4 linked regions of the Homo sapiens genome follow. The protein of the gene in region 2 interacts with the protein of the main gene of each other region in a pairwise test. Each region holds a gene or a part of one and is shown on either strand. Other genes may lie near its edges.

Region 1 (7,027 bases), on a different chromosome or scaffold from region 2:
GCTTGACGTGACGGATGAAGTCTAGTCTAGGGCAGCAGTGCACTGGTGGGGGCAGGGGTCAGACAAGGCCTTGAGTAAGGGCACCTTTCAGCATGAGAGCAGACCCACGCTGGTTTTCCCCAGGGCTTCCTGACTGCAAAGGCAGATGCCTCACCTCTGGGCCTGGGTTTCAAGAAGCCTCTGGTCAGCCTTGCGTGAGCAATATGGTCCCAGAGAGCCCCGGGGAATGATGTACCCCCGAGGCCATTTCCTCACGGGAAACATTTGCCCTCTGTGCTTGATTTTATTTTGAACAGTTCAAGCTTGAGACTCAACAGAAGATATTTCATCCCATTTGTTTCTTTATTGATAATTCGTAATATTTCTTTTGACATGTAAGCATCATCACCAGAGACTGTTACAGTGTGAATAGCTAACAATACAGAACACAGAGGGAATTTAATCTTATACTTAGTTAATTTACATTTTGTAATAAGCAGTACATTCAAACTTCTGAAACCAAACCAAACCAAAGAAAAACATGCCATGAAAAGTCTCTCCCCCTCACCTCCACTCACTCACTTCCTACCTCCCTGAATGAGCAACCACTGTAAATGTTTCTCATATATCCTTTGGAGAGATTTATATTGCACATCGTCTTATTTTCTTCCTTTTTTACACAAAAGGTTGTACATTATACATGCTGTGCTGTACCTTGTTTTTTATTTTTTAACATAACAATGTATCTTGAAGATCTTTTCATATCAATTCACAGAAGGAAGCCTCATTCCTTTTCAGCTGCTGCACAGTTTTCCATTATGCAAGTATGCCTGGCTGAGTTAACCAACCCCCCACAAATAAACTCTTGGGTTGTTTCCAGTCTTTTGCTACAAGAACCTTGTACATACATCACTTCTCACATGTGTAAGTTGAGCTGTAAAATAAATTCCCAGAAGTGCAATCGCTATATCAAAGGGAATGTGCATTTGTGGCTTTGATAGATTTGTCGACTTGTCTAGCACAGGTGTTGTTACCACTTCCACCAGAATTGTATGAGAGTCCCGTTTTCCTACAGTCTTCCTAGCACAGTGTTTCACTGACCGGTCACATGATGTGGTAGCAAATGTCCAGGGTAAGGACCTCAACTCTGGGAAAAACTGTACCTCCCGGGAAGGTCTTTAGGACAGGAGGGGCAGGAGCACCGGATGACTAAGCCTGTGGGTCAGCCCAAGCTCGAATCCTCAGGCAAACCAATAAATCTCTCTAGGTCTCAGTCTTCTCATCTGCAAAGTGGGGAAAATAACCTACCTTGAGGGTCATCATGAGGATTAGATGACATGATGCCTGTCAAAAGGGCTTTGCACAGTCCCTGGCACATGGCTGCGGGAGGCTGACTCTGAACTTACCAGCAGGTGACCTTGGGAAAGGCAGTGCCTTACCTGAGCCCCTGCTGGTGTATTCTCTGGTCAGGGAGGGAGTTGGGGTCAGGTCCTCTTCATAGTCTCAGGGTCTGACCTGTCTTTCTTTAGCAACGTGTATAACCTCCACTCACCCTTCCTCTCTCCTGCTCATCAAAGGTATTCAGGAGTCTCCGGTGCCGAACGGCCACTCGCTTCCGGGCAGAGACTTCCTCCGGAAGCAGATGCGGGGAGACTTGTTCACACAGCAGCAGCTGGAGGTGCTGGACCGCGTGTTTGAGAGGCAGCACTACTCAGACATCTTCACCACCACAGAGCCCATCAAGCCCGAGCAGGTACGCCTCGTGATGCACGCCCACCACACCTGCCACCGCCACACCGGCCCAGCCAGGTTCCTGAAGGCAGAGGCATCTGGCGGGGTGTGGGTGAGGGCACACCAGGTTCTGCTCAGAGAGGTCTCTTCAGTGTTCTTGGCCAAACTTGGGCAGTCGCTACATCCTATAAGGTCGGGAGGGCTTGTCTGGGCCTCCAGTGGCTTCTTGCCCTGGTGCCTCTGTCGCTGGCCAGCCAGGGGGTGGGTGACTTCTCTGGCTGCTCTGGTGTCCTTTCCAAGGGCTCTTTGGACAGAAGGGTGTAATGATCTTTCGGGCCACGTAAGGTGGTCTTGGGTCAGTATCTTGTCAGTCAGGGTGATGGTGGAAATATGTAACCAGCACGCGGCCTGGGGGCTCACCGGCCGTGAACAATGGAATGACGGAGCGGGTGGGTATCCCACTGTCTGCCCTCTCACCAGGTCGCCTTGTCATTCTCTTAGTGACTGAATCCAAAATTCTGGAGATAAAGAAATGTCTCATTGCACAAACTCCCACCTGGGTTATTTGCAAGAGAGGGAGAAAGCAGGAGGACCAGCCCTGGCTGACCGGCTGTCTGCTATACCCTGGGCAGAGTAGTCACTACCTGTGGCTATAGAGATGAGATCACGAGGCTCGGCCCAGTGAGAGGCTCTTGAGGCCTGACTAAGATCTCTGGACTATCAGATTCAGTTCATAAGACTATTTCCTGACACCCAGTGTGTGCCAGGGCCTTGACAGGTAACCTTGCAGGCTAGACATGGCTCTGGACTGCCAAGAGCTCCCACCTGGTGGGCCAACCAGAGAGACCCTACAGACAACAACTTTCCTCGGCACTTTCCTCGCTGGTACTAGTGGTGAGAACTGGCTGCGCTGAGTTTCCTCTAAATGCTAATTAGAGGATGCTTCTGAATCTTCTCCAAAAAGTCAGTCCAAGCAGTGTAGCCTCCCTGCACAGCTCCCATGGAGAGGCGAGGTGCTGGAGAGAACCGTGTGGTGAGGGAAGAGCAGGGCCTCTGGGGCCACCCATCTATGACAGTCTGTCTGTGTCTGAGCAGTTTCTATGAGAGCTCTTACAGACCTTCTAGCCACTTTGTTTTCAGATGGTAAAACCAAGGTCCAGAGAGGCAGAGCAACTTGCCTAAGGCCACGCTGCAAGACGCATTCACATAACAAATATGATGAGTGTTTACTTTGTGCAAGGCCTGGAGCCATGCACTGGGTCACATCAGTGAACAAGATGGTCTTGGACCTCCCCTCAGGGAGCCTACAGACTTGTGGAAGAATCCCAATAGAAGAATTACCTAAAGGGTCATGGGTTACAGGTGCGCTTGGTGCTAAGGAGGAGGTGTCTGAGGTTCTCTGAGAGCCTAAAGGAAAGGCTGAGCCAGCCTGGAGGCCTCAGTGGCCTCCTGGGGGAAAGGTATTTATGCTGAGCCTGAAGGGGTTGAGTGGAGCAAGGAGAAGGGGTGTGGGGGTGGAGGGAAAGTGCCTGGCAGAGGGGACAGCAAGTGCAAAGGCCCTGAGTTGAGAGGAAGGCGGCAGGAACGAGGAATGGAGAGAGCCGGTGTGGTTGTGGCTCAGGGATGGGCGGGCGATGATGCTGGGGAGGTGGGCCTGGTCTTGTAGACTGGGTTGAGGATTTTAGTCTTTCTCTTACAAGTCGAGTGACACCTCTGTTGGGTAGGACATGGTTATGGTGCTGGGCATAGCCGCCCCCACACACTCTAGATCTTGGACTTCAGGGAGGAGAGTCTGTTTCTATCACAAGCACCCTCTCTGCTCTGCTCAGAGCCCTTCTGAGAGACGGCAGAAGGCACATTTTCTCTGACACGGGAGGAGAGTGAGAGGGGCCTCGATCAGGAAACCTTCCTGGATGAGGCCTGTCCTTCCCTCCAGAATGTGGAAGAAAGTTTATCTTCTTTTTTTTTTTTTTTTTGTGAGCTGGAGTTTTGCTCTTGTTGCCCAGGTTGGAGTGCAGTAGTGTGATCCTAGCTCACTGCAACCTCCACCTCCTAGGTTCAAGTGATTCTCCTGCCTCAGCCTCCTGAGTAGCTGGGATTACAGGTGCCTGCCACCACGCCCGGCTAATTTTTTTGTATTTTTAGTAGAGATGGGGTTTCACCATGTTGGCCAGGCTTAGTCTTGGACTCCGGACCTCAGGTGATCCACCCTCCTTGGCCTCCCAAAGTGCTGGGATTATAGGTGTGAGCCACTGCGCCCAGCCAGAAGGTTTATCTTTTTTCTTTTTTTGAGACAGAATCTTGTTGTGTCGCCCAGGCTGGAGTGCAGTGGCGCGATCTCGGCTCACTGCAAGCTCCACCTCCCGGGTTCGCGCCTTTCTCCTGCCTCAGCCTCCCGAGTAGGACGGACTACAGGCACCCGCCACCATGCCCGGCTAATTTTTTCTATTTTTTAGTAGGGGCAGGGTTTCGCCGTGTTAGCCGGGATGGTCTTGATCTCCTGACCTCATGATCCGCCTGCCTCGGCCTCCCAAAGTGCTGGGATTACAGGCATGAGCCACTGCACCCGGCCAGAAAGTTTATCTTCTAATGGCTGACAAGATCATGTAATTTTAGGGGTAACAGGAGCCACAGAGGCAAGATTTCAACCTGTTGTTTTTTTAGAGGCCCAGAGAGAGGACAGGGCATGTCTGAGGTCACCCAGCAAGTGAACAGGGAAGAGCGGGGATCCAGGCCTCTGCACTCCACCTGGCCTCTGCAGCACAAGTGTTTCTGTGAACCCCTTATTCACACAGACACTCCGTGTGAGACTCCCTCTGTGTTTCACATGACCGTCATGGAGACTCAGAATCTGCACCATAACTCCTTTAGCTCAGAGTGCCCAGGAAGACCACGCAGCCTGCAAGACCTCATCCCTGAGTGGTCTGGAAGCCGCCCATGGATTCACTCACTCACCTGCTCACATGCCACTCCTCTAACTTCTTCCCTGAACGTGGGCTGGGAGCCAGGCACAGTGCCAAGTGCTCATCAGCTCTGTCCAGTCTCGCAGGGGCAGCGTGCTGTGGACTCAGAGCCCGCAGGACAAGAGAGACTGTTCAGAGGGTCCTGATGAGGTGTCAGCCAGAGAGGGGGATGTTACCTGGGTTGGGAGCATCAAGGACAATGGCACTGAGGGGGCAGTGTTGGATGGGGGGCTTGAAGGACAGGTCCCATGGGCTCATGGAGAGATGGGGTCTGATGGGGAGGAGACCTGATTACAAACTCTGTGAGGACTCAGCATCTCCAGTGTCCTTCAGAATGAGCAGGCACGTCTGCAGGCCTGTCTCTGACTGTGCGCTCTGAGACGGCGACTGCAGGCGAACTGTGTGGCAGGATAATGACTGACCCAGTGTTTTCTGGTTAATCTGCTTCACCTCCCTGTAATGTGTTTTAATGAGGAGAGATGGAAGGTGAGGAGACGGGGCTGCCCTGCACCCACACACAGGCACTGGACTATGAATGACATACCCTCGTGCCCGATTCCCAATCACTTTGGACAAATGATGCCTGAGCAAGGGGCCGCAGGCTGGGAAGGGATGTCAGTCAAGGGTACAGGTTCCTTGAGCCCCTCATGCTAGCTCTCCAAGAGGTGAATGTTCCACAGGCCTCGCCTGTGAGCCCCAGCGTGGCATGGCGGTGGTGACAGGAAGGGGGCCTGAGGTGCTGGCCGCGGAGGCTGGCTGCCTCTTCCATTTTCGAGCAGATTGAGCTGTCTCAGTGTGTGTCTCTGTGGCCTAGTGCCCTGGATGGGGGCCTTGCTGTCACTTTCGCTGAGCAGCTTGGTGGGGAACAAAGAGCACTTACTGGCCTTGGGGTCGGGAAGCTTGATTTGAGTCCTAGCTCTGCCCTGCCGAGCAAGTCACTATTTTTCTGGGCCTCAGTTTCCATATCTGTGGTAGAAGTGATCATGATTTTGATGACGACAACAACAAGAACAGCTGCAGCAGCCGAAACCGAACGTGACGACAGCGATCCTCCTCACCTACACACCACAGCGTTCAGTTCACAAAGACCGTTCACATCCATCCTCTCATTGGACCCCCGAGGCAAATGCCTGCCAAACAGGCTGGGCATGATTCGGGAGCCCCATTGTATAGACTAGAACATTTTTTTTCACAGATTGTTTATTCAAGGAGTTTCCAAGATTGTTGAACCGCAGAGCTGGAATCTCATCTCAGGGTCTTCTGTCTTCATCTCATGCAAGATGGTTCCATGGGCCTCCAGGTCCAGGACGATTCCAGGGGCCAGTTTTCTGGCTAGCTGGTTTCCAGACCTGGCCTATTTCAGTCAGAGTCTGCCTGTCATCCAGAACTCTCAGAACTTGCCATAGGTTTGGAGAGGCCACATCCTCCCGGATCCTCCCACCCTGTCTCCCATGGGAAGAACATTCCTCATTGGGGCCAGGCAGGGGTCCTGACAGTTACTGCTGTTAGCTCGGAGCCTGCCCCACTTGCAGCTTTTCCCGCCAAGATCTACCTGGGTGGGTGGGCCCAGGCTGCTGGCTTTTGTAGGGAAATGTAGTAAACGCTTTGCCCTGGGTGGAAGGCGTTAATGTTGACCACGCCTGGGCAATGAAACACTTCCTTTTCAAAACGGTTATTGAAAAAGCAATTCTGTTTTCCCTACATATGGAGTGAGTAAAAATCACGTTGGAGGAAGAAAAGAAAAGAAAGCTGCTGGTGGCGAGTGTGTGTGCGTGCACGTGTGTATGTGCGTGCGTGTGTGTGTGTATGTTTCCAACAGTGGTATCTGTTTCAGTAAAACTCCCGTTGACGTTGTCGTCGGCGCAGCGCTCCTGTTGGGAGCGGGTCCCTCCTCCGGCGGCCACAGGAAGGCTACGGAGCATAGCCTGCCGTATTTACTCTCGGCAGACTATTAACCAACACCAGGCTATTAATCTGGCTTTTGAGCCTTCACTAAAGCCCATAAAAGCTCACAGTTGTCAAATGGAGTTCATTTTAATTTCCTTTCAATCACAGTAAATTATTCAGGTGATAAATCAGCTGGAGCAGCCTCCTGGCTGTAATAGAAACCCTAATTCCTGGCTAATTATCCATCCCATTGCTGCCAATAGATCAATACGGGTGCAAAATGGAACGGGCCAGGGCCCTCCCTCCCATTGGGCCAGAGACAGAGAGACAGCTGGGGAAGGGGATGTGCTGCTGACCTCCCAGGGAGTTCAAAGGTCACAGGAGGTTAAACTGGGAGAAGATCTGCCCCTTGTCTAACAGAGAAAACCACTAGAAATGCCTCCTGCTCTCATCAGCTGCTTTGCCCC
Region 2 (7,027 bases):
AAAGACAAATTTCACAGTCTTAATAGCTTTAAAAAAAAAAAAAACTAAAAGGTGCTTCATGTCTAGTGTGTGGCCTTCCTGAAACTTATGGTCATCTCTCCCACTGAAATCAAGGTCTTTTGAAATGTGGCTAAATGGGGATGAGAAAACATGTGTAGGACTTTCTTGGTGTGTGTGCATTCTTTAAAGAGCCCAGTTGCTTCGGGGAAACAGTCAAGAAAATGGTCAAGATTGTTTTTAGAGGTAATTTTATTGGGGATTTTAAAACTAATAATATCTTGAGTTATTTTTAGTTCAGGGGGATGTGGAAAGGTTTGCAATTGTGAAGTGTTTTATTTTAGCTTAGTATCCATAAGGGAAACTTAGACTGTAGACATAACTACAAAGCCAGTGCAGTTTTTATTTTCTGTATGTTGTTGGGGGAATCAAGTTTTACATATAGCAAGCACATGGCCTCCCTGATGTCAGGATGCCTTTGTCAGGATCTGTATTTGCCCTTAATTTTATTGAAATAGCTTTTCCTTCTTCCTCTTGAAAAGTTCCAAAATATAGTTTATTGTATCTTTCATCATTAAAAATTTGTTCTTTTTTCACTACAGGCAGTTCACACAAGGCAAAAACTATTGAACAGTTGGTTTTAGTGGGTCATATAACTTTGCTGTATATCAAACTAATTTTGACAAGTTTTCATCCTAAGCCTCAAATCATGTAATTAATAATTTGTCTGTTTATTTGTGACCTAATTGTAATTCTTTTATTAATAAAAGCTAATGGGAAAAGGATCCCTGATTAAGCTGATGACTAGACCTACAATTAATTTTCCTGCAGTATATGAAGTACCAGAGTATTAAAAGATATTTAATATTTTATTGATAAATCTTTTAAAGGGAATATGTTTTAGGATGTCATCATTTTGATGTGAATCATGTAAATGTTGATAATATGCTGTTTATTATACATTTAGTGTTTCAAGAGATTCACTTAATTGCCTTTTTGCCCACTTACATTATGTAGTCTATTTGCAACTGTTTTTTAAAAAAATGACATTAAAAGAATACTTTATGTAGAGAAACATTAGTGGATGTTAATTGTCTCCCCACCTATATTTATGGGTGTTAGCGCAACTGCTTTGCTAGTTGCAAAGCTGTATTATCAGAGTAAAAGTGTATTTGTAAACTGTATGGGAACTAAAAATTAGGAATAAAACCATTTTCTTATATGAAAACAAAAAAATTACAACTGAGATGTATCCATCTTGAGTCAAAGCTTTTAACATTGTATTATAGTTTTGTCACTAAATTTTTATTAAAAGACAAATTGACTTTCCACTGCCTTCTACACAGGGGCAACTTATCTTCTTGGTCTTCAAGGCTGTATCCGCAACTGGCTACATAATTTGTGAGACCCAGTGCAAAGTGAAAATCGAGTCCCCTTGTTCAAAACCAATTAAGAATTTCAAAACAGTAACAGCAAAGCATTACTCCAAGCACAGGGCCCTTCTAAGCATGGGGCCTTGTGCAATAGCACAGGTCACATGCCTATGAAAGCCTTCCTGGCTGCACCCCCATCTATCCAACCTTATTTGCTACTAAGCTACTAAAGTTCTGCTGGTTCTTTTTCTGGTTCCTCTGGTCATTTTGATTATGTGACTCTCTGTTCCTGGAATTTTGTCCCTTGTCTTCTGTGCTTATCTAACTCCTAATATCTTAAATCCTTTTAAGGCCCAGCTAAGTACCAACTCTGTGCTAGGCATCTTATTCACTTTATCTCATTTAATTCTCAAAGCAATACTACTATACAATGACTTGTGGAGGACATATCCAAGTTCTGATTGTGATATTTAACTTTTCATGGATGAATATGTCAAAACAGGCATCAGACTATATCCTGAGGGTCTTTCTGTAGATTACGTAACTCCTCTTGTAAATTAAAAACACAGACCATCTTATGTCCAGAGTTTCAGATAATGAAACTGTCTTGGCTTAAAATGACAATGAGACAATAACTGTTTTGATTTCAAATACCGCCCAAGGAGGTGGACCATGAAAATAAGCACTGTTTTCTGTACCAAACAGACCTGTAGAAATACAACGAAACTGGGAAAATTTCGATATTGAATATGAAATCAAAGGAAGTATACACTTAGCATTAGAAGATATCATACGTAGAAAAAAAGATTGCGAACAATCTGCTATACATTGTATTATAAACAGATTAAACACAGTTTACGTCTCAACCTATATATTTTAAGGAAACTCAGTTCTTTTGATAGATAAATTATTCTAGAAATCAAATGTGAGGCACAAAATCCTTACAAACTGGATTACTGAATTATACCTATTAATCACAGCATTGTTTCAGACAGCATAAAAGAAAACCCTTCACTGAAATATCTTAATGATTATATTTGAATAGCAAGGAAAATATTAATACAGTAATCTTATGATAAGAACTCAAATATTAAGTCATTCAACTTATGTTCAAACTGGGGAAACAGTGGCCAAATAGTGAGTAAAATGCAAGTACAGAGATACATATTAAGTACTTTCAAGACTTGGGAGAATATACAAATTAAAGAAGCAGCTAAAAATACAGTATTTTATATGTATAAAGGTAAGAATTAAATGAAAGAATAGGATGTTCAACTAGTGTCAAGATACCAAACTGCTGATTACAAAGGACACACAGTATCTTACAATGGAGTGCTGTGGTGGTCAGCACCTTAACCAAATGAACATATCACTAATGGTGGAAAATCCTGAAATTATGACTCCTGTTGTCATGTAATAAATAGCAGACAATATCACTTATCTAGCATACCCGACAAAAATTCTAATAAAAATCTAATCATGAGGAAACAGTGATCTACAATGTTAGACATTTTATAAGACATCTGGCCTAGACTCTCTAAAAAAGTCAACATAATAAATTTTAGATTATGTAGCTGAGCTAAAAACAACAATAAAAAGGTGGGAAGAGTTCTGTGTATTCAGAAATTCAAAACAGGAATAATTAAATGCAATGCAATGTCCTCAGTTGAATCCTAAATCCAAAGAAAAAGCTATAAGAGATATGTGACTACTAACTATATATTAAATGGCATCACAGAATTACTATTAATTTTTTTTTTTTTTTTTTTTTTTTTGGAGACAGAGTCCTTCTCCATCATTCAGGCTGGAGTGCAGTCGCGCCATCTCGGCTCTCTGCAACTTCTGCCTCCCAAGATCAGGCGATTCTTGTGCCTCAGCCTCCCAAGTAGCTGGAATTATAGGCTCGTGCCACCATGCCCAGCTAATTTCTGTATTTTTAGGAGAGATGGGGTTTTGCCATGTTGGCCAGGCTGGTCTTGAACTCCTGACCTCAAGTGATCTGCCCACCTTGGCCCACCTAAAGTGCTGGGATTACAGGCATAAGCCACCACTCCCCGCCTGAATTACTATTAATTTTGTAAGGTGTTATCAATTTTGCAAGTGTGTGCTTCTTCTCGGGAGACTCATGCTGAAGTATCTAGAGGTGAAGTGTCATGATGGCTACAATTTCCTTTCAAATAGTTGAGTAAAAAAGAGAGAGAGAATACATGCGTGCACAAGTTCAATGTAACATTGTACCAACTTGGTGAATATAGGTGAAGTAAACACAGTATTTACTCTACTAGTCTTGCTTTTTGATGAACTGAAAACTTATAAAATAGACTTTCTGAGAATAAGATATAATGGGAAAACTGACGTTTCTTCCCCAGGGATGGTATTTACAGTACTAAAAAGATGTTAATGAAAATATTCCTGGCAACAAGAAAACTCACAGCAATAAAAGACACCTGGTTCTCATCTCTTAAGTCTTCACAGTTGGTTGTTTTTATACTTCAGGGATTTTAATAACAACAAATACTATTTAGGAGGTCACACATTAGAGGAATCATCACCCAAAGGAAGAAGAGACAGACTTCAAAAATCATAGATTCTTAAATGGAGGACAAAAGACCTGCAGAGGCTCCATGGAGTGGCTTCAAGAAACACACATATCCTTAAAAACGAATGACAAACTTGCACATGAAAGTTGTTTTGAGAGGAGAATTCTATAGCTTTCATCAGACCCTTAATGAGTCCTATGACTCAAAAAATATTAAAGAACCATTGTGCCCAAGAAAAATAGTATTCAGGATATAATTTCATATGATATCTACCAAAATATTAGGTATTTTAAGGTAATTTTTCCGTAAGTTTCTTTTGGCTTTCTGATTGTAAAAGTTTTAATAGTACCTAAATGATATTAATCATTTCTATTTTTTATCCAAATCTGCCTCGATCTTGGAATAATAATTTTTAAAAATTATTGAAGAAACCTTGAAGAAGGCCATTTAAAATAATTTGAAGTTAGTAAATTTTTAGAAAGGATTATAATTTCTTTTTACAACAAAACAAAATAAAACTTACCGTTGAGGTGGTGTCCGTGGGCTCTTGAAGACTGTGGCTTTAGGTCTATTAGACTTGGAAGATTTGCACTTCACTTCATCTTCATACAATTCTGCCAAGGCCAACTACATAATAACAGGCTTGTTACAAAGTATAACACTAGGAATAACCTCTTCCATACAACTAGAAGTTATGTATAGAACACTAACTTAAAATTGAGTGGTAAAGACTTTTCATGAAAAAAGCTGCTGCTTCAGATGATTCCTTTCTGAAATAAACTTACTGCATCTCATTATATAGAACTAACCAAAATGCCACATCTATTAGAATAACTTTAAGTTATAATAATTACTTGATTATTTTCAATTAACTACTGAACAGTGTCAAAATCTGTTTTAGGTAACAAACCATTTTCAAATTTAAACCTAAAATTCTTGTGCAATTCTTTTAAGAATTCCTGAAGATGTTCACACTAACGTCAGCTTCTTCCATCAGATCTCATAAAATAGTTTCATTCAGCTATTCAAGTTTTCAAACTCCAAGCATATAAAACAATTTCAGAAGTATTCTATTTAAAAGTCTACCAAACTTATAAATTTCATCGTGTTTAGGAAAATGAGTTTCTGAACAAACAAGACCATAAATTATATATGGTTTATATACCATTTAGAAAGTAATATTACCAAATTATACATTCTAGATATTGGCTGGATAGTTTATTTCAAAATGAAATAAAATTATATTTGTTCTTAAAATGGAATTTTAAAAAGTAATCCAATATTTCAGTATTGTATAGAATTTTTTCTGACTTTTGACATCTTTGGACAACAACTCAACAACTTTCTTTAATGCTCCTGTGGCTATTCAATTATAATTGGCATGACCATAATCTCCGGTTTTTTTTTTTGTTTTTTTCAAAAAAAACCCAAAAAACAAACAAACAAAAAAACCCAAAATCATAACAAAACAGATTAAAATGCTCCTTTTAGACACACAAATGATATGAAAACTACCTCCAAGAAGAACAGGGCATTGGGGCAATGTTAATTCTTTGAAAATTCTATTAGTCAACTTTTAAAATATACACAAATAAAACAAAATGAAAGACTTCTAATTTTTTTACCCCTACCCTCCCACATTCAGTAACATTCATATTTGTACAATGGCAACTTTGCTAGAAATCTGAATTATAAAAGTGTTTGGTAATCTAAAAGGACTGAATTCAAATCGTAACTTAGGCACTTCCTGTGTGATCTTGGGCAAATTATTTAATTTCTCTGAGCCTTAGTTACCACATCTTCAAATGCCTATAAAAAATCACCGTAGTCATTTGAAGGATTAAATAATGTATGGAAAGCACAAAGCATGTGTTCCATCACTAGAAGATATTATTCTTAAATGTTTAGTAATGATTGTATCAGTGTTTCATTTTCCCCAAGATTTTTTTTTCTTCCTACAGTGTTATATCTCCTTATGGTCCTTTACTACTCCATCCCCTCCAAAAACACAAAACAAAAAACAAACAAATGATAGAGGAGAGAGAGACAGACATGCACATACACAGTCTGATGACTAGGGTCTAAAGTTTTCAGAAATTTTACCTCCCTGAAATTTCTTTAAAGTAGTATTATTTTATGGATTTCCTTCTAAGCTCATTATGTCAGCTTTATGAATTACTTTTATGATATTCCTATTCTCATCAATGAAAATGTCATCTGTATTTCAAAGGCCCATTTCAGCTCTCCTTCACAAAACCTTTTCTAATCTTCTTAATATCTTTTTTTCTAAATACTCATAGCACGTAATACCCCCAATGACATTCATATTAAGCATTATGTTGTCATTACTTGTGTACTTTTGCTGTTTTATTTCCCCAACTAGATTTTAAGTTTCTCAAATTGTTTCTAATATTGTACCTAAAAGGCAACAAATTGACGTTGAATTATATAAAGAACATAATAGAAAATGAATCAGAAATAGATATAGATAGATGTATTTTAAATTGGGGTTATATTTGTTAAACACTTTTTGCTTTAACAAGATTTGAATAAATGCTTCCAATCAAATAACAATTTTCTTTGGTGACATAAATTAAAAAAGCAAAAATGCCACTAGCCCCATGGAATGTGGAACATACATTAAGAAAAGAGGAATATGAGGAAAATGATATTAAAGAGTCTACCTGGCTGAAAGATCCTAGTTATTAACGGTACATCATTAAAAACTTAGAAGAAAATGAGTAATATTTAGAGGGAGTTGATGCCATATGGCATCATATGGCATGAGTTCATTAGTAAATACTACAAAGAAATTTAATTTATATTATTTAACATAGATGACATTACATCAAAAGAGGAAATGATAATTTAAATTGATAAATATTAATTGAAGTACTGGTCAAAACTAACACAACAAAAAAATCTCAAAACGTAATTAAGAAAATGTTTCAATAATATGCAGAGGATAAAGTATGTAAGTAAAGTATTGATAATCTTTCCTCTAGAATTTGAAATGTGAAGAACTTGAAACCTGAAAGCAAAGGAATCGGGTGAGAAAATAAAGTATATAGCAAAATATTAAAAGTATTGGAATTCTCAGCCTTAGAGTAACCAATT
Region 3 (7,067 bases), on a different chromosome or scaffold from region 2:
CAGACCAGGTTATGATTTTAGCAGGCACCCCTATAACTGATTATATTCTTCCCTAACCATCTAGGTGCAGATTACCAGTTAGCATCTGTTACTTCTACAGATGGTTGATTCCATCACGTTGCATTATTTCATTTCTCTCCAACCTTCCTGTCATCTCCTAGAGACTCGGCATAGAAATAATCTTAAGAGTATGGGCTGGGCACGGTGACTCACACCTGTAATCCCAGCACTTTGGGAGGCTGAGGCAGGCAGATCACTTGAGGTCAGGAGTTCGAAACCAGCCTGGCCCACATGGTGAAACCCTGTCTCTACTAAAAATACAAAAGAGTTAGCAGGGCGTGGTGGCGTGTGCCTGTAATCCCAGCTACTTGGGAGGCTGAGGCAGGGGAACTGCTTGAACCCAGGAGGTAGAGGTTGCAGTGTGCCGAGATCGCACCACTGCACTCCAGCCTGGCCGACACAGTGAGACTCCATCTCAAAAAAAAAAAAAAAAAAAAAAAAAAAGAGTATGGAAACTAGTGGTTTTCAAACTTTATTTTAAAAAGTAACAGAACTCTTTCTTTCTTACTGTAAAAAAATTCTCTCTATATAAGAGATAAAGGATCTGTTAAAGTAGGGACTCCCAGTCTGGTGAGGTGGCTCACATCTGTAATCCCAGCACTTTGGGATGCCGAGGCGGGTGGATCCCTTGAGCCCAGGAGTTCAAGACCAGCCTGGGCAATATAGTGAAACCCCACCTCTACCAAAAATACACAGATTAGCTGGGTGTGGTAGCTCACACCTGTGCTCCAGCTACTCAGGAGGCTGACGTGGGAGGATCACCTGAGCCTGGGAGGTTGAGGCTGCAGTGAGGCATGATGGGGCCACTGCACTCCAGCCTGGTCGACAGAGTGAGACTCTGTCAATCAATCAGTCAATCAATCAACCAATCAATCAATCAATAAGCAGGGACTCCCTCACTACACACTCACCTCTCTGCGGCTATCCAATCTACTGTGGGAGAGCCTGAAAACCCTTTTTTTTTTTTAGATGGAAGTTTCGCTCTTGTTGCTCAGGCTTGAGTGCAGTGATCTCCGCTCACTGCAACCTCCGCCTTCCAGGTTCAAGCGATTCTCCTGCCTTAGCCTCCCAAGTAGCTGGGATGAAGGTGCCCACCACCAGGCCCAACTAATTTTTTTGTATTTTTAGTAGAGACAGAGTTTCACCATGTTGGCCAGAGTGATCTCCAACTCCTGACCTCAGGTGATCCGCCCGCCTTGACTTCCCAAAGTGCTGGGATTACAGGCGTGAGCCACCGCACCCAGCCGAAAAACCACCGTCTTAGACCATCCTAGAGCTGGCAGAGCTGGCCCATCATACTCCATTAAACACTGGCAGGAAAAGCCTGTCCAAATCAAATAACTTCTTTAAAACATGTTGAGATTATTTGTGTACAAGATAAAAGGAATCTACTGCCAGTATAAATGCATTCAGATTAGTTATGTACAGTAGAATTTTTATTTGTAGGAAATATTTAGATTTTTTTTCAGATATGTGAGACACCCCAAGAGAATATCGTAAGTATAAACTGGGTTTGGGAAAGAATAATATGGCAGTCGGGTCAGATTCACTGTATCTAAAGATCTTGCTCCTAATTCCGATGGCATGTCTGTAATTGGGCCCCCAATTTCAAATTTAGTCCACTCTTCTTTTCTATACAAGGAGAGGCTTTATGCTCCACCTGCTACATGACCCAAATCAATAATCCAATGCAGCAGCTTGGGGAACCCTAGGTTTTCACTATGGGACCAAATAAACTCAGAATACTTTTGAGAACTTCAATCACATGAAATAATTATTTCAGAGAAGGATCCTTGTGGAAAGACCGTAACAGGAAGAGCATTCTGAGGTAACCTTTCCCAACTTTCTCCTCCACACATTCTTGCAGAGGAAATTAAGAGAGAGAAAAAAATTAAGAAATCCCAACTTAGTCCGGACTCTAGTAGTACATGTCAAGCACAGAACCCCTAATTTAAGACCCGCGTCCCGAGGCCAGGCTCCCTCGGGAAGGTAGCGAGTGCATCGCGATAAAATCTTTCCTCCCGCCTTCGGAGTCAAACGGCCCCGCAATCCAAACAGTTTAGAATCCAGCTTGTTCTTAATGCCACAGTCAAGAGAAGATCCATAACCCGCCTTGGTCATCTGCCCTTCTGTGTTCACAACCGTTCAGGGCACAAGTTCTTCGGTCTAACCGAATCTTTCCCTGCTGCGGGGTTAAGCCCAACCTTTCTTTCTGACCTTGGGGAGCCGGCAGCTCCCCGCCCGGTGCCCTCACAAAAGCCTTTGGGGGCTCCCTCTCCAAGATGAGACGTTTATCCCATCCCCCCACCCTCCTAAATTTAGGACAGGAAAGCTTTAGGGCCACCGTCTCTCTTCCGGGACCGATCACACTTCGTTCCAAATAGGAAAAGACAGGGGGGAAAAAAGATGGAGGGGCGGGAGACCTGGACCCCGGAGAGTCACCTTCCAGCTACCCACAGGAACCAAGCATCCGATCACTCGCGCATCCCTCTCCCCTCCTCCCCCGGCCCGCAGTGCACCCCACAGGGAGCCCCGCCGGGTCCACTCTTGCTCCGACCCCCATTTCGCGCGCCCCCTCGGCTCTATCTCCCAGATCCTCAGGCGACGAATGGAAAGGGGGTCCCTTCCCTCTCACCTGGGACGGAGGCGCTCGCTCATGGCAGCTGGCGGATGGAAGCTACGCGGCGCCGCTCCGCGAAGAGAGGGAACAGAGGGGGTTGTGTTTCGGCGGCCGCCACGCCCACCCCCTCGGGCCTTGGCTCTCGCAGCCGCTCGGGTGGACGCAGCCGGTGGCGAGTACCCCTCAGTCGGACCCGTACCACCACTACTTCCGGCGTCTGCTCCGCGCCCCCCCATGTCGCTGCCGCCGTGGTACCGCCCTCTCGCGGCTGCGCAGTGGCACCATCCCAACCGCACCGACTGGTAACCCCGCCCACGGGAAGAGGCGGGCTCGGAGCGGGAGGAGCGACTAGGAGCTTCTGGGAGAAAGGACCTCCCCTGGGGTGGCAGAAGCGCTCGCCTGTTCACAGCCAACGGAGGGTACGGTATAAAAGTCAAGCCAGGTTTCAAATAAATTCAATTATGTCATAATAATATCATACAAGTATTTGAGTTGAATCCGTGTAACATATTTTAAAACAGGCGGACCTATCCGGCAGTGGTGCAGACGGCCTGACGAGGTTCCTTGGCCGGGGGTTGGGCAGGGGCCTGGGGGGCTTCCCTGGGGGGCTTGTCGCCGGGGCCGCCTGGGCTTTCAGGTCTTCCGAGGTGAGGACGGTGCTCTGTGGGGAGCTTGCAAGGGCGGGTTTGTTTTCCGCGGCCCACGTTCTAAGTCTGGGGGAGACTCTCCTGAGCGGAGAGGGTAGGGAATCGGGTGCCGGGGCCGGCGGAGGGTCTTCCTGGAACCGCAGGAGGAAATCCTCGGTGGGGCTGCGGGAACGGCTGTCCCTGACCCAGGAGCTGCCGGGCCGACCCCATCCACTCCGCAGAATCAGAACAGCTGGCAGAATCAGAACAGCTTTCAGGGAAAGGAAGGGTGCGGGGAGGTGGGCAGGCTGGTAACGCAGCGGGAGGAGGGAAAGGCGGCTGGAGAGCGCCGGAGGTGAGGGTGAGGATTAGTGGAACTATTGAGGTCCTCCTTGAGCCCGGAGGCTGGGGAGGTCTTAACTCTCTGCTTTCCGGAACCTGTGTTTCTATTTGGTTCAGTATCGTGCCGCGTTTACTCACTGTGCATGCTGCCAAGTCACCTGTCTGATCGTGTCCTACACAGGCTGACATTCACGTTTCATTCTGCCACACTCGGGAACGGTGATCGGGGAAGCATGGGGATCCGGGAGAAGCACCCACAAAACTAGCATCCTCCTGGAGGAGCTCGGGTAAGAAAACAGACACCCACGTATAGACGTTATCGTGGGAATGTACCGGGATCTTTCAAGTAGGGTTGAGTGTGAGGTGGAGTGGAGGCAGAAACGTCTAGCAGGTGTCAAGCCCTTCCTAACGTTGTTAGCCGAAGGTCCATGGACTGGCTTCATTTGTGTGTATTATTGTAAACAAACAGTCTGTGGCTTTCATCCTGTTAGTGTGTACCTCCAAAGAAAGAAAGAATGATGGCTCACGCCTGTAATCCCAGCAGGCTGGGCGCGGTGGCTCACGCCTGTAGTCCCAGCACTTTGGGAGGCCGAGGCGGGTGGATCACCTGAGGTCAGGAGTTCAAGACCAGCCTGGCCAACATGGTGAAACCCCGTCTCTACTAAAAATACTAAAATTAGCTGGGCGTGGTGGCGCACGCCCTTAATCCCAGTAATCCCAGCCACGCGGGAGGCTGAGGCAGGAGAACCGTTTGAACCTGGGAGGCTGAGGTTGCTGTGAGCCGAGATCGCGCCACTGCACTCCAGCCTGAGTGATAGAGCAAGACTCCATCTCAAAAAAAAAAAGACCAAACAACAACAAAGTAAAAATGATTACTGTAATCTGTTGGCAGAAAACAGTTTTGTTTTGAAGGACTTCGTACAGGATAAGGTGGGTTGGTTGCTTTATTGAATGGATTGGTGAAGATTGTGTCTATTTTGTAAGTGGTTTCAGTCACCCTTTTTAATCTCTTTGGTAGTCAGAAGATATTATCAGTTGTAGTACTGAATAATATTTAAACGTTTATATCTAAAGAATTAAGTGAACAAATATTGTATGCCAGGCTCAGTGCTAGGTTTTTACATACAGCTGTGTGCAGGATAGATATGTTTCCTGCCCTCTGGAACTTTATAGAAAGAATAAGAGATGTAGAAAGGAAATAACTTTCAACTAAACATTGGAATTAAACATTTTCTTTTCTGGACTCTAAAGAATAACAGGTACAAATATACATGGTATAAATGTTTTTTTTTTAATTTTTTACATCGTATATGTTTAACAAAGATGTCAAACTAATTTGCCAGTAATCTGTTGTACTAGAAACTATAAGTAGGCCAGGCGTGGTGTCTCACGCCTGTAATCCCAGCACACTGGAAGGCCGAAGGCGGGCAGATCACGAAGTCAGGAGATTGAGACCATCCTGGCCAACATGGTGAAACCCCGTCTCTACTAAAAATACAAAAATTAGCCTGGCGTGGTGGCGCATGCCTGTAGTCCCAGCTCCTCGGGATGCTGAGGCAGGACAATAGCTTGAACCTGGGAAATGGAGGTTTCAGTGAGCCGACACTGCACTCCGGCCTGGTGACAGAGTGAGACTCTGTCTCAAAAAAAAAAAAAAAAAAGTATAAGTGAAAAACAGGACTGTGTCCTTGGCCATGTATATATTTGTGCATTATGCATACATTTTATGTATATCTGTGTGTGTGTGTGTGTGTATATGCATATTACTAAATGTTAGTAGAGCTTCATTTCTCATTCTTTGATTGTGGTAATTCTAATATTTTCTTCTTACACCCTAGTGCATATTCTATTTATCACTTTGGAAACCTCTGCTGTAATCAGTAACCTTTGGCTGGGCGTGGGCGTGGTAGCTCGCGCCTGTAATCTCAGCACTTTAGGGGGCTGAGGTGGGTGGATTGCCAGAGCTCAGGAGTTCGAGACCAGTCTGGGTAACACGGACACGGTGAAACCCCGTCTTTACTAAAATACAAAAAATTAGTCAGGCGTGGTGGCATGCCCCTGTAGTCCCAACTACTTGGGAGGCTGAGACGAGAATTGCTTGAACCTGGGAGGCGGAGTTTGCAGTGAGCAGATATTGTGCCACTGCACTCCAGCCTGGGTGACAGAGTGAGACTCTGTTTCCAAAATAAATAAATAAATAAATAACCTTTGGTTCCTGGCCTAAGTTTTTTATTCTTTACCATTCTGTCCTTGAATAACGTGTTTAAGGGTTTTTAAACAATTTTTTATACTCATATAATGACTAGTTGACTTGCTGTAACCGTAAGTAGCAAACATCTAGCTTGTTCCAAATGAATTTAAAAGATACAACACATAAGTAAAATATTGGTATGTACAAACTATGTGCTTCTCATAATCTCACATTTACCTTTTTCAGGAATAGGATGAGTGATAATCCACCCAGAATGGAAGTGTGTCCTTACTGTAAGAAGCCATTTAAACGATTAAAATCCCACTTGCCATACTGTAAGATGATAGGACCAACCATACCTACTGATCAAAAAGTTTATCAGTCCAAGCCAGCTACACTCCCACGTGCTAAAAAGATGAAAGGACCAATCAAAGATTTAATTAAAGCTAAAGGGAAAGAGTTAGAGACAGAGAATGAAGAAAGAAATTCTAAGTTGGTGGTGGACAAACCAGAACAGACAGTGAAGACCTTTCCACTGCCAGCTGTTGGTTTGGAAAGAGCAGCTACTACAAAGGCAGATAAAGACATCAAGAATCCAATCCAACCATCCTTCAAAATGTTAAAAAATACTAAACCAATGACTACTTTCCAAGAAGAAACCAAGGCTCAGTTTTACGCATCAGAGAAAACCTCTCCTAAAAGAGAACTTGCCAAAGATTTGCCTAAATCAGGAGAAAGTCGATGTAATCCTTCAGAAGCTGGAGCGTCTTTACTGGTTGGCTCAATAGAACCTTCTTTGTCAAATCAAGATAGAAAATATTCCTCAACTCTACCTAATGATGTACAAACTACCTCTGGTGATCTCAAATTGGACAAAATTGATCCCCAAAGACAGGAACTTCTAGTAAAATTACTAGATGTGCCTACTGGTGATTGTCATATTTCTCCAAAGAATGTCAGTGATGGGGTTAAAAGGGTAAGAACATTATTAAGCAATGAGAGAGATTCCAAAGGCAGGGATCACCTCTCAGGAGTCCCTACTGATGTTACAGTTACTGAGACTCCAGAAAAGAACACAGAATCCCTCATTTTAAGCCTTAAAATGAGCTCATTAGGTAAAATCCAAGTCATGGAGAAACAAGAGAAAGGACTTACCCTGGGAGTAGAGACGTGTGGGAGCAAAGGAAATGCAGAGAAAAGTATGTCTGCAACAGAAAAGCAGGAACGG
Region 4 (7,027 bases), on a different chromosome or scaffold from region 2:
GCCAGAGGCAGTAGCCAGTGAAAAGGCCCTAAGGCATGGTATGCTCAAGAAACAATCAGGAGGCCAGTGAGCTGAACAGGAGTAGTACATGAGATCAAAGAGGTGATGAGATAAGAAGGGAGGCAAAGATGACATAGATCTCTAAAGCCACTGTAGTTTTGAGTTTGCATAAAATGGGGCAAGAATCAGTACAGAGATCTGAACAGAGGAGCCAAACAATCTGACTTGTATTTTTAAGGGATCACGTTGACCTCTGTGATGAGAATAGACTGTAGGGGGCAAGGTGAGAAGTAGGAAGACCGTTTAGGAGACTGCTGCAGCATCTGGGCTAGAGAAGATGATGGTTCATACCAGGGTAGCAATGCGGAGGGAAAGAGAAGTCGAGAGTGAACCTGAGATTTTGGCCTGAACAACTGGAAAGATAGAGTTGCCATCAACTGAGATGGGCCAAGCTGTGGCAGAGAGGATTCCATTTCAGATGTGTTACATTTAAGATGTCTATCAAGCATTCAAGTGAAGATGCAGTAAATAGTAATATACAAATCTAGAGTTTGGGGAGAAAAACCCAGACTGAGATATAAATTTGGAAGTGTCTGACTACATATGGCTTTTTAAAAAATTTTTAAATTTTTATTTATTTATCTATTTTTTGAGATGGAGTCTCGCTCTGTCGCCCAGGCTGCAGTGTAGTGGCGTGATCTCGGCTCACTGCAAGCTCCGCCTCCTGGGTTCACGCCATTCTCCTGCCTCAGCCTCCCGAGTAGCTGGGACTATAGTCACCCACCACCACACCCGGCTAAGTTTTTGTATTTTTAGTAGAGACGAGAGTTCACTGTGTTAGCCAGGTTGGTCTCGATCTCCTGACCTTGTGATCCTCCCACCTCGGCCTCCCAAAGTGCTGGGATTACAGGCATGAGCCACCATACCCGGCCTTACATATGGCATTTTTAAAAATCAGGAGGTAGGATGAAATAATGAAGGCAGTGAATATAGGTAGAGAAGAGACCAGAGACTAAGCCCTGGGGCCCCCCAAAATTAAGAGGCTGGGGAGGTAGAGAATGAGAGACCACCAATGTCCTTGAAAACCAGGAAAGTGTGGTACCCTGGAAGCCGAGAAAGTCCACTGAGGAAGAGGGAGTGATGAGCAGTAAATGCTTCCCATAAATTGAGAACTGAGAACTGAGCATTGGATTTAGCAATGCAGAGGTCATTGATTTTGACAAGAGCAGATTTGGTTAAAATGGAGAGCCAGACTGGAGTGGGAATAAGAATGAGAGAAGAAAAGATGGAGGCAGTTACTTATAGACAACTAGCTCAAATGTTTTTCTACGGAGGGGAACAAAGAAACAAGATGGTAGCTTATAGGAAATGGGATCAGAAGTATTTCATGTTTTTCTGGCTTTGGGTCATATTAATAAAAAGTTAAAGACTGAAAACCACAAAACCACCTAGTATACATGATTTCAATCCTTAATTTTCAAAATTAAAAAAAAATTCTTTTCGTGCAAGGCCATTGATATATAAATATTCAATAGTGGTACCCCTTTAAAAAGTTATTGTAAGAAATGTTAGGACAACCTAGAGATGTGAGACTTTGTTGTTACCTGCGTGTACAGCTCATTTAACCTCTCTCTGTTGCAGGACAGAGAGGGGAGAATTGCTGGAGCAGTGTAGCAAAAAACTTGTGTGACCTTGTGTAGGCAAAAAGAGAGGGTATATTATACCAGTAGGAGGGGATAGGCTTTAGAGAGGCACATAGGAAGCTCCTCTATGGTTAAGAGGTGGGAAGGCAAAGTAAGTGAGTGTGGATGCTGCCAAGGAGATAGATCTGGTGTTGGCTGGTTGTGGATGTCTTCTTTTCCTGAACAAGGAGATAAACCATTATCCCCATTTTCCTCAAAAGAAGAAAGAAGCTCAGAGAGGTTACACAGCCAGTAAGGGGCACAGCAGAACTAAAATTCAGAGTTTCTGAGCACAAATCCAGTTCCATGTGTATTGGAGCTCCCCACTTCCCTGTAGCCTTCAAATAAGTGTGTAGGTGCCCTGGTTGCCAGGCTGGACATTTGAAGGGAAGTAGTCAGCTTTACTCTTGTTTTGGTGCTCACCAAGTATTTTCTCATTCAAACAGAACACATGGACCACTTATAGGATCGAATAAACATCAGTACTAAGGAAAACAAGTCAGTAGGTGATTTCCACGTACAGCCAAGGCTGAGAATCCCGTGGCTGGGGCAGCGCATCTCAGACTTGAAATGCCTGGGAAATCATGTGACCCTGCATATTCTGATTTAGCATTTCTAGGGGGAGGGCCTGAGATTCTGCATTTCTAACAGGATTCCAGGTGATGCTCATGCAGCTGGTCCACAGACTGCACTTCAAAAAGCAAAGAGCTGAAAGGTGGAAACAATCCGAATGTTTACCAACAAGTAGAGAAACAAAATGTGGGATGACCGTAAAAAGGCCATTAACTTTGGGAGGCCGAGGAAGGCGGATAACCTGCGGTCAGGAGTTTGAGACTGGCCTGGCCAACATGGTAAAACCCCGTCTCTACTAAAAAAAAATACAAAAATTAGCCGGGCGTGGTGGCAGGCACCTGTAGCCCCAGCTACTCCGGAGGCTGAGGCAGGAGAATCGCTTGAACCCGGGAGGCAGAGGTTGCAGTGAGCCGAGATCACGCCACTGCACTCCAGCCTGGGCAACAGAGTGAGACCCTGTCTCAAAAAAATAAAAGAAAAGAAAAGGCCATTAAAAGGAATGAAATGCTGACACATGCCACAACTACAACACGGGCAAACCTTGAAAATGTTACGGTAAGTGAAAGAAGATGGTTACATAAGACCACATATTATATGAGTCTACTGATGTGAAGTGTCCAGAATAGACAAATCCATAGAGATAGAAAGCAGATTAGTGGTTGCCAGGAACTGGGAAGATGAGGGAATGTACAGTACCTGCTAATGGGTATAGGATTTCTTTTTGGAATGATGAAAATATTCTAGAACCAGATTGCACAACATTGTGAATGTACCAAATGTCTCTATAGTGATGGCAAATTTTACATTATACGTGGTTTACCACAATAGTAAAAAGAAAAAGAAAAGAGCGAAAAGCTGGATCGTCTCTATGGTTTCTTTAGTTTTGATATTCTGTAGTTTTAAGCACTGAAGTGTTAAGAAAGGTAAACAACTTTCTGCCCAAGGAGAAGGAGAAGAGTTCTTTGGAGAGAAGCCTTGGTAAGTTTCCCAAAGGGGAAATGCTCCATTCTGTGCAAAAGAAGGGAGCAACTTGGCACAGCAATGCACTAAACGGCGCTTAGGGGCTATGGAGGGAAGAACCTGTGAGTGTTCCCAGGCAAAATCAGTCAGTCAGTCAATCACGTAACTGCGCCTCTACAGAGTCCTCTTTTTGCACCAAGCTCTGATGTCAGGAAAATGGAAAAAGTCATGCAGTTTTGCAGGAAGCTCACAGTCTAATAGAGAAGACTCCCACATGGGACCGAAAACAGTAAGACAGGCCCTACTGAGGACCAAATTGCAATGTCCAGGCCATGAAGTTTGGAGATGGTCAGAGGTGATCGGGGGTGTTGGGAGTGGCAAGGGAAGCCCCTTTGAAGGGCTGGGCACAAATGAAGACCAATTTTTGTGTGCTTGATTAGCCTAAGCAAGTCACTAAACTATCTTTTGGAACAAAGCAAAAAATAAATATGGGACCCTTTAATATCCATGCTATGTAAAATTGGGCCCAGAATCTGCCTTTCCTATCACACTTTTCAGAATGTGGATGAACTATTGGCACCATTAGAAAATTACTAAGTGCTACTCACCATATGGTGGAAATACTTATTTTCTGGAATCATTTGGTTGCAATAATGACAGTAGATTTCCCTTTCAGGAGCTGAAATTCTTTCCCCTGAATAAGCAGAGAAACAACACCACAAATGATTGTCCTTGTCAACGGCTAGCCCAGCTCTCCCACAACTGCATACATGGCCTGTGCTCATGAGCACGAACTGCCCCCCGGACCTGCCTGGTCTTGACTTTCCTGCGCTGCCGGCATCCTTGACCACACAGGCAACTCTTGGCCGAATCACCCACATCATTTCCTTTATGGCCACAGATGTGCACTCAGGGCAGCAGCAACCGTAATGGAGAGACATTTTCCTGGATCAGGACTGGTTTCTAAGGAGATGAATGGAGCTGTAGCCACGGATGCCAACCCCCTCCATTCTGACTGTGCTCTTTCATTGCACCAGTTTTCAGACTCTGTGATCAGACCAGGTGTTGGTTGAACACATTTTTGTTGACAGTGTTGAAGCTGTGTTGTGTTGTGTTGTGTTGTGTTGCACTGAAGTTGTGTTGAAGACTGTGTTTGATTCTGTTGACGTCCAGCCATGCTGGGATGAAGGAAATATACATGACTCTCACAATTTCCAGGTTTCCATTGGCCAGTTTTGCCCTTGGGTGGATTGTTTATCAGGAGAAGGTTACTGTCTGGGGAGTTTTAGGCTCTCTCCCATGTTACCATGTTACCAAAACAACTAGCAAAGACACCAAAGGATCTGTCACACTGATGGTTGTGTGACAGTAAATACACCCTCATAAAGAGGTGAGTGATTCAAGTGAACATAAAATGGTACCAGGGAGCCAATACATAGGCCCCCAGGCCAGGAGCCATTGCTAACTCCCTTCTGGCCATTGTTGATAATGGAAAAAGCCCTAGATTCAGTGCCAGGAAGTGCGGGAGTCCAGTCTTATTTTTGCCTCTAGCAAGTCCCTGCTTTATTCTGTGTGTAGGTTTCTCATCTGTAAAAGGATGCAATGGATCTCTGCCAGGCTAGGACTGTGCTAGAGGTGCTCAAAGAAAGCCTCCTGTTTCCTAGGACTCCCCATGGTCCCCCCCTTTTTTTTTTGAGACAGAGTTTTGCTCTTGTTGCCCAGGCTGGAGTGCAATGGCACGATCTCGACTCACTGCAACCTCCGCCTACCGGGTTCAAGTGATTCTCCTGCCTCAGTCTCCCAAGTAGCTGGGACTACAGGCGTCCGCCACCACGCCCGGCTAATTTTGTATTTTTAGTAGAGACGGGGTTTCTCCATGTTGGTCAAGGTGGTCTCGAACTCCCAACCTCAGGTGATCTGCCCGCCTCAGCCTCCCAAAGTGCTGGGATTACAGGCATTAGCCACCCCGCCCAGCCTTCTCCATGGCCTCTTTACTCAACTTTGTGGTAGCTAGGCTCTAGCCCCGGCCTCCTAGTCTCCCTGGACCAGTCATTTGAAGGCCACAGCAGACACACAGGAAGGCCACTCTGAGGCATGGTTTAGAATTAGAATAGCCAGATGAATTGAGATCTATACAGCAAATACACTTGTCATCCGTCCTGTTGAGAGCTTCCCTTCCTTGCATCCCATCCAGGAAAGGCTCTGGCCCTTGGAACGTCTCTCTTCCACCCCAGTTTGTGTGCTTACCTTTCCCGAGCTGGGCCTGTTCACTGCGACAGACATCTCTGTGCTGGGCGAGCATGCGGTGCATGATGAACTGGCCACAGCCTTGGCAGAGCTCTGTCCGGCTGCCACAGTAGGACTCGTGGAGCTCCAGCTTGCTGAGCTGCATGTCCAGTTTGCAGAACTTACACTCAACAGGGCGCTCCTGGCACTCATTGGCCTGTGGGAGGCAGCAGGAAGGGCATGATCACTGGCCCTTTTTTTTTTTTTTTTTTTTTGAGACAGAGTCTCATTGTGTTGCCCAGGCTGGAGTGCAGTGGCTTGATCTTGGCTCACTGCAACCTCCGCCTCCCGGGTTCAAGCAATTCTCCTGCCTCAGCCTCCCAAGTGGCTGGGACCACAGGCGTGTGCCACCACGCCCAGCTAATTTTTGTACTTTTAGTAGAGACGGGGTTTCACCATGTTGGTCAGGCTGGTCTCGAACTCCTGACCTCGTGATCCACCCGCCTTGGCCTCCCAAAGTGCTGGGATTACAGGCGTGTGCCACTGCGCCTGGCCGATCACTGGCCTCTTTGACTGTAGGCAGATCAAGGACTTGTGCCCATCTCCCTAGGGAATTAGGGCCAATACGAGAAAGCAGATGAGAAGGGCCAGAGTGCGGGACTGCCTTCGGGGGATCTGAGCTCTGATGGACTCATGGACCATGGAAAACCCTTCTGATCAGTATCTGGGGGACAGGAGAACCTGTGTTATGCGGTGGGCTAGTTCTCCACTGCTCTCCAAGCCTAATGGGGTGAAAAGAGTGGTCAGGTGGAAATCTCTATTACTGGCCTCCCGTTTCCCCTTCCTCTCCTTTTCTCAGGTTGGTCTATTTGGCTGTAAAGGAGAAATCACATGGGGCTCTTACCTTATGAAACTCCAGCGAGGACTTCTGCATGCTCTGCTGACACATCGTACACCCAACCTAAACACACACACACACACACACACACACACCAGATGTGGGTCCACCCAGCACCCAGGGCCTGCCCCACATCCACTTTGGCTCACAGTGTTCCGGGTTTGGGTCTGTGAACTCCCAGAGGGCAGGGATCCGATGTGGCTACCTCAGTGTCTCTCTAGCACCCCGCCCAGTGTTCAAGAAGTGTTTGTCAGACCAGTCTGAGTTGGCAACGGCTGCCTGAGCTTGAGTATCTCCAGAGAGACAGATCAGGGGCCCCAGGAGGAATGGACATGGAAAGGCGGGAAACAGGGCTCCATCTGACTGCCTTCCAGGACCTTCCTTTTTCACATCCTCTCTTTACAGATCTCAAGAGAACAGCCAGTCTTTCCTGAAACCAGAACCTCTTGCCTATGCCAGATCCATAAGCCTGTAGGGAAAGGATTGGAAATAGGAAAACTGGAGGTAGACTCAGATTAGCATGAAAAAGGCAGGATTAACATTTCCTTTCCATGGGCTTTGTGTGGAGGGGCTAAATGACTTCCCATGGCCCTCAAGTGAGTCTCTGCCTGGGGGACTGGACCCTTGCCTTAAGTCCCCAGCCCTCACCCCAACTCCCGGACCCCATCTCTCCTGCAGGGAGGACTGG

Evidence for each region.
Region 1: the proteins of UBXN2B (region 2) and PAX5 interact in binary tests that used the Homo sapiens proteins (3 or more experiments, as listed by UniProt).
Region 3: the proteins of UBXN2B (region 2) and VCF1 interact in binary tests that used the Homo sapiens proteins (3 or more experiments, as listed by UniProt).
Region 4: the proteins of UBXN2B (region 2) and XAF1 interact in binary tests that used the Homo sapiens proteins (3 or more experiments, as listed by UniProt).

The regions. Positions count from the first base shown.
Region 1 is NC_000009.12:36,961,254-36,968,280, reverse strand, and holds part of PAX5 (paired box protein Pax-5), read left to right. Parts: intron 1-1,556; coding exon 1,557-1,732; intron 1,733-7,027. UniProt on the Homo sapiens protein: Transcription factor that plays an essential role in commitment of lymphoid progenitors to the B-lymphocyte lineage. Fulfills a dual role by repressing B-lineage inappropriate genes and simultaneously activating B-lineage-specific genes.
Region 2 is NC_000008.11:58,414,360-58,421,386, reverse strand, and holds part of UBXN2B (UBX domain-containing protein 2B), read right to left. Parts: intron 4,538-7,027; coding exon 4,434-4,537; intron 1-4,433. UniProt on the Homo sapiens protein: Adapter protein required for Golgi and endoplasmic reticulum biogenesis. Involved in Golgi and endoplasmic reticulum maintenance during interphase and in their reassembly at the end of mitosis.
Region 3 is NC_000017.11:73,229,391-73,236,457, forward strand, and holds the start of VCF1 (protein VCF1), read right to left. Parts: upstream 3,005-7,067; 5' UTR 2,917-3,004; coding exon 2,696-2,916; intron 228-2,695; exon of another isoform or gene 1-227. Other genes in the region: MTNAP1 (mitochondrial nucleoid-associated protein 1), read left to right, coding at 6,093-7,067.
Region 4 is NC_000017.11:6,759,037-6,766,063, reverse strand, and holds part of XAF1 (XIAP-associated factor 1), read right to left. Parts: intron 6,809-7,027; coding exon of another isoform or gene 6,590-6,808; exon of another isoform or gene 6,403-6,589; coding exon 6,346-6,402; intron 5,659-6,345; coding exon 5,463-5,658; intron 4,179-5,462; exon of another isoform or gene 4,157-4,178; coding exon of another isoform or gene 4,023-4,156; intron 3,910-4,022; coding exon 3,824-3,909; intron 1-3,823. UniProt on the Homo sapiens protein: Seems to function as a negative regulator of members of the IAP (inhibitor of apoptosis protein) family. Inhibits anti-caspase activity of BIRC4. Induces cleavage and inactivation of BIRC4 independent of caspase activation.